Regions from separate parts of the Homo sapiens genome. Here region 1 is linked to region 2. Evidence: fine-mapped expression QTL. A gene starts in region 2. The other region holds a variant in brackets. All regions are shown on one strand. Distances are between the middles of the regions.

Region 1 (2,895 bases), 40 kb before region 2:
CACACATAAACTCTCACGCAGCTGCAGGGGCTTTCAGAGGCTCACAAACTCCTGAGGTCCATTCTTGGAGTCCAGATTCAGAATCCCTGGTGCAATCCCAAGCCTTTGGCACTCCCTGGAGCCTGAAATCCCCAAGTTCCTTTTGGGCCAAACTGGTTAAACATGGATTTTGAAAAAAGGAACAAAGCCAGGGATAGAATTAGCTCAGCACTCCCAGGGGGCTGCCTCACAGCAAGCACTTTAAAGTGTGTGAGAGAGAATATGATGCAGAGGAAGAATTTCTTGTACTCTGAGTACCGCTGAAAAGCATTCAATTTGGGAGGGCTCCACGGACAGGAAGAACCAGAAGGTAAATCCCAAGTTGGTACCTCTGACTTCCTATGTCCCATGCCTTTGGGATGGGGCGGGGAGGGGAGTGTGGGGGTAGGAACAGGAGTTTTGCTTTAATTCTGAGTTGGATGTCCTCTTGCTTTGAAAGATCTCTCAAGAAGCTGTACCAAGAACCAAACTCCAAGACCTCTACCAACTGTCATTGCACAGGGGACTGCTAGGACCTAGGAGGAGGGCCTGCAGGTAGGGCAGGTGATTTGGCAGTAGCTCTCCAGAGGTTAAATGGGCACACCCCAAGTGAAATGGAAGATTCTGCAGATGACTCAAATCAATATTTAAAACCATTCCTGCAGGCTTCAAACATCACCCCAGACCCTAATAGGCAAAAGCAAGCGTGGTTTTCTGAGATCAGAGAATGCTGCCTGGGCTCCCTAGAGGGTAACGGCTCTTAGAGGTGGCCTTAGAGGTGGCAGCAGCAGAAGCATCACTAGCTACAGCCCCAGTGACAGCAAGGGCAGGAGTGGCATCACCCCAGTGCTGATGCTGCTCAGTGTTTCCATTTCTGGGTCTGCATATTTGTGAATATGTGAGTGTGCTTATGTGTATACACAGGCACAAGCTTTGCTGTGGACAGGGATGTGTCTGTGTGTATCAGAGCACATGTGTGTGTGCGGGTGTAGCACACACACACTTTAAATACAAGTTCTTCAAGGGGACACAGAGGGGTTCACCCAGTGGTTAGAGATTCGCTTATTTTGGAATTGACTTTTGTTTTTTCAAGTTTCAGAGCCATTTGTGGGGAAAGGAGGCAGCACCCTAGGAAACATCCCTTCCTAAAATGTGCACACACGTGCTAAAAGCAGCCGCTGATGGGCTGGGGAAGAGAGGCCTGGCTCTCTGGGGCTTCATCCTTTCATCCTGCTTCTGAGGCTGCTCGAACTCTTGTAACATCTCAGAGCTGCTCCATCAGACCCTGTAACACGGACACCTTGGTGTCTTAGAAGGAGATAAGGACAGAATCTGTGGGAAGCCTCCACTGTAGCCTGAAAGTTCCATGGTGAAGATGGGGTTCCCAGCAGCCAGCCCAGGGGAGTGACAGTCACAGGCCTCCCAGAGACCTGGCCCAGGAGTTTCCTCAATACGCTTCTTGGAGGCTT[T/C]ATGAAGCAGAAGCGTGGCTAGGGCTCTGGGAGGCAGGAAGACCTGATTTGAGTCTCAGCTCCCCACAGTGAGCAAGATGTATAATTCACTCAGCCTCCACCTCTGCACCTGCAAAATGGGGACAATGACAGAACCTCTTCCTTAAGGACATTAGGAAGACTCAAGGTAATGCCTCCACAGCACACTGCTCAGCACTCCCCACCCCACCTTACGGATGAGGCTGCCCCAGCTCTGGAGCACCCCCGGAGGTCAGCCACAGTCTTTGCTGCAACACCATCACAGTGGAGCATCTCCCTTTGCACCATCCTGTGTGCCTTGCGAGTATTCATTCCAAAGTACTGCCAGATAAACTTGCTGCATGCAAACCTCCGTCTCCGAGTCAGCTTCCTAGGAACCTGAGACTTGAGGCGAGATCCCTTAGGGAGCAAATGAAGTGAGAACAGCCTTGACAAACAATTCTGGAGGAACAGTAGGGACAAAAACCTCACTGGAGTGGATTCAAGAAAGAATGAAAGGAGAGAAACAGCACAGCAAGGATAGGCAACTCTTTCCAGGAGTTTTGCTGTTTTACTAGGAGCACAGAGATGCAGAAACAGCATGCCATTTTCCCAGGGCTACTGCACGTGCTGAAATCGGGCCCTAGATATGGACACCTGTCCTGTCTGCCTCAGTCTCAACTGCACACAGATGTTTCTTATGCTTCATCCAAATTGTCCAGTTGTTCTCAGCAGAAGAACTGCTCTGATACAAGCTAGTTCATTCTAGCTGGGAGCAGAAGTGCAAGGCCTCGGCCTTGGGTGATGTCCAGAGTTGAGTGTCGGGATCTCTGAAGACACAGGAGGCAGCTCCCTCTTGGCTGGGCCTACCTCTGCAGGACAAAAGCCTCCAGCCCTTGGGTAAAGGCAGATGCCTGGCCTCCCCCGACTCCAACTCTCCTCAGTCACACCTGCCTGCCTACAGCTCCAGCACCACAGAAGATACCCAGTAAAGCCACTAGCAACCTTCCCACTAGGCCCCCAGATCTGGCTTATTAAATTGTCTTCTGTCACAAGGACCACTTACTTACAACAGCTGTTGCTGTGGCAACCAGGCAGCCAGCCTTCCGCTCCAGCTAACAGCCATGAAGCTCCTGCTGACTACTTGGCTTGGGCAACTGCAGGGGAAGTTGCCCCCAAAGTGTCTGTGAGGATGGAACATGGTGGAGGACGTGGGAAGTGGCGACAGGGAACGGGAGGCTGATTGTGAAGTGCAGAGATTTGGAATTGTTCTATCATTCCCTACCAACAGGTTGGAAGAGCTATGAGATGACTCCCGCCAGAGGGGTTCCCACACCTTCTTGTGATATAGGCCACTTCTCCAGCAACACCTCCTTACCCACTCCACTCCCTATCTACAAGCTGAAGGAGG
Region 2 (2,895 bases):
CCCCGCGGATCTCCTCACCCCTCCACCCCCAGGCCCAGATCTTTCCTTGTCGGAATCGCCACGCTTCCTCACTCCTTTACCCCCGCCCCACTCGGCTCTCCTCTTCCTGGTCCTCATCCGGCCAGGCTGCCCCGCCCTGGTAGTTCCCGAGGGTCGTCCGAGGCTCTCGTCCACCAACCGCCCCCGTCTGGAAGAATGCGCCCGCTCGAGCGCACTCTCGGCGGGTGCCAAAGCCTCCCGCCTCAACAGGTGCCCCTGCCTGGCCACGCACAGCTCTGTCACCTGGGGCTCGGACGGAGACGGCGACAGGATCGCCCCCTGCAGGGCGGCTGCGGCTCCGCACGCCCCCGCCCGGGTCCCCAGAGCGCCAAGGGCCCCCGCAGCCCCGCCGCCGCCCCCGCTGTGCCACACTGCCTTTGTTTCCCTGCCCGCTTAGATGTCGCGAGGCTGACTTCATGCAAGGGTATCGCCAAGTTCGGGCGCTGACACTGCCCACCTACCCGTGGTGGCGGACCCTAAGGTTGGGAGTGAGAGACGCGTACAGTGCGAGACCTCTCCTCAACCCAGAGAACTCCGGGGAAGCTGGGTGTCCGCGCCGAAGAAGCGGGTTCAAGTTGACCCGGCTCAGAAGGGGGTTCGAAGCCAGGCGCAGCGCCTAGAGAGCCTTCCCCTACCCACGCCCCCACCCGATGTCCTCTGCCCCCAGAAGGCTGGAGAGGGGCTGCGCACTGCCACCTACGCGCTCGGCTGCGAGTGGTTCCCACCGCCCGCTCGCCGCGCGCTGGGCCCGGCAGCCTTCCGGGGCACACGAGGCTCCCGCAGCCCCCAGACTCCCGGCCCCGGCAGCGCAGAGCCGGGAGAGCCGCCACGTTCCCAGCCGCGCGCGCACGCCGGGCCCACCAAACTTGCAGCACTTTCTCCCAGCCCCCACCCTCTGTCACCCTCCCTTAGTCGGTGCGCCCCAGCCCCGCCGCCCGGCAGAGGTTGCCATAACAACGGGCAGGAATGCTCCAACATATACAAAGCCGGCCCGGCGCAGCGGGCACTCAGCCCTGGCCGGGCCCCGCGCCCTCGGCCGCCGCGCAGGGTCTGGACGCGCGCCGCGGCTCCCTAGCCGGCCGGCCGACGCTCGGGGCGTACTCACAATGAGCGGGATGGTGCGGTCCTCGCGGAGCTGCTCCGACCTCCTGCCTGCCCTCTGCGCGCCCCGGCCGCCGGAGGATGCTGCGTGGGCTCGGTTGTCCTGCCATAAGTAGTAGAAAGTGCCCAGGATCCAGGCTACGGTCAGGATGGCGATGGCATTGGCGCGGATCTTCCTCATGGTGGGCAGACGGGCGCCCCAGGTGGGGGACTGGGCCGGCGTGCTCTCGGGGCCGGGGCGGGGGCGCTCGCAGCCCCAGCTGTTTGTTTTCGCTCGCGCCTAGCTGCTCAGTCCTGCAGAGCAGAAAAAGGAGAGAGGTGGGGGGGCGGGGGGGTGATAGGGAGAGACAGGATCGCGGAGCGATCCTCACGGTCCTAATGCCCTTCAGCCCCGAGCGCGCGCGTCCCCCGGGCGCCCATTCATTCGTGCGCAGGGCCGGCCCCGCGCTCCAGCCGCCGCCGGCTGACCCACCAGGCCACTGCGCACTGGGAGAGAAGCGCGCCGAGTGGGAAGCGGCGCGGGCCTTCCTCCCGCGCCCGGGAACCCGGCGAGACAGACGCCCGCGGCGGAATGGCGACTGGCCAAAGCCAGCCTCGGCTCCCACCGCTAGGTGACCGAACGCCCGGCAGCTGCCCCCGCGCGGCCCTGGTCGGTCCTGCCGACCCACACCCACCCCCGGACCGAGCGGCCTTGAGTCACCGACTGGAGACGCGCGACCCCCGACCTGGGCCCGCGCCGCGAGCTGCAGTTCCGGGCTGCGCTCTGGCGCGGGATTCAAGGTGTGTTCGGCGAGTCCTTGTGTAGGGGCGGCTGGGCGGGGGAGAGTCCTGAGTTTGTACTGGAATCTGCAGCTGAGATTAGCCAGACCGGGCCCGCCCAGAGGAGGGATTGGAAGCTGGTGCACTTGACATTCGAAGAGCGCGAAGGGGAAACGACGCTGCCTCACACCCAGTGCTAGGAGAGTGCGGGTACGGCCCTTCCACATTTTTCGCTGGCCTGGGGCTCCCAGATTTCACGATGCTTCCCTCTATCCCGCCTCATTGACCCCTGGACAACCCTGAAATATCATCGTCAGCATTATTTCATCGGAAAGAAGGGCAGCAAGAGAGGCCGGATGATTCTCCCAAGGCCACACAGCTAATTAGTGGGCAGAGCCCAGTCTAGAAGCCATCTCACCATCTGACACCTTTCGACAAAGTGCAAAACGCGGTGGTGAGAGACGAGGACACAGACATTAAGATTCCGCTCCAGCCCTAGAGGCACTGAGAATCAGAACGTGAACTACTCTTCACTCCAGGCAGAAAGCAAGAGGCTTGGATGAGTTTTAGGAAACCAGCACAGTGTCGGGCACAGAGCGCTCAATGAATAGATGTGTAACAACAAAGTAGGGATCCAACAGAGGAAGAAATAATTTATTGTAAGGTGGCCTTTGGGAAAGCTCTCAGAAAGGTGGATGAATCACTTAAGAGGTAAGGAAGGGGGAGGTGAGGACAGGGGAGAGACTGCAGAAATAGGCCTTGCAAAAATCCAGAGGATGGAAGAGCTTGATGTGTTCAAGAGAGAGAGCTGCCAGGCGTTGCAGGGGGCCTAGGATTTGATAGGAGTTGAGGTTGGCCAGGCTGGGTGAGTCTGAACTCAGGAGGTCCTTGAATGCCGGGGCAGAGTTGTTGAGGAGTCTGCTTCCTGCTGGCACTGCTGGACACCATGGCTACTCCGAAGACCCACATAGGGTCCAGCCTCTAAATGAAGCCATC

Alleles and levels. Positions count from the first base shown, and alleles are read on the strand shown. Sizes are in standard deviations (SD) of each study's normalised expression.
With allele C in place of T in region 1, the expression in atrial appendage of the gene that starts at base 1,454 in region 2 is higher (small effect, 0.23 SD a copy in GTEx).

What was found. PIP is the estimated chance that this variant, and not a neighbour inherited with it, causes the effect. A credible set is the group of variants that fine-mapping cannot tell apart.
Region 1: its variant is the best candidate, but not a certain one, in a credible set for the expression of GALNT16 in atrial appendage (GTEx, PIP 0.82).

What each region holds. Positions count from the first base shown.
Region 1 is chr14:69,298,331-69,301,225 of GRCh38, reverse strand. All of the region lies in intron 1 of GALNT16 (polypeptide N-acetylgalactosaminyltransferase 16), which reads right to left. LOC105370549 (a long non-coding RNA gene) reads left to right here and starts at 429. Exons shown (of 2, transcript XR_943979.3): 1 at 429-573; 2 at 1,112-2,895. The variant T/C (reference allele first, on the strand shown) is at 1,488.
Region 2 is chr14:69,258,717-69,261,611 of GRCh38, reverse strand. GALNT16 (polypeptide N-acetylgalactosaminyltransferase 16) reads right to left here and starts at 1,454. Exons shown (of 15, transcript NM_001168368.2): 1 at 1,145-1,454. The coding sequence starts at 1,321. GALNT16-AS1 (GALNT16 and EXD2 antisense RNA 1) reads left to right here and starts at 1,085. Exons shown (of 4, transcript NR_184249.1): 1 at 1,085-1,322. RefSeq lists a silencer at 349-408.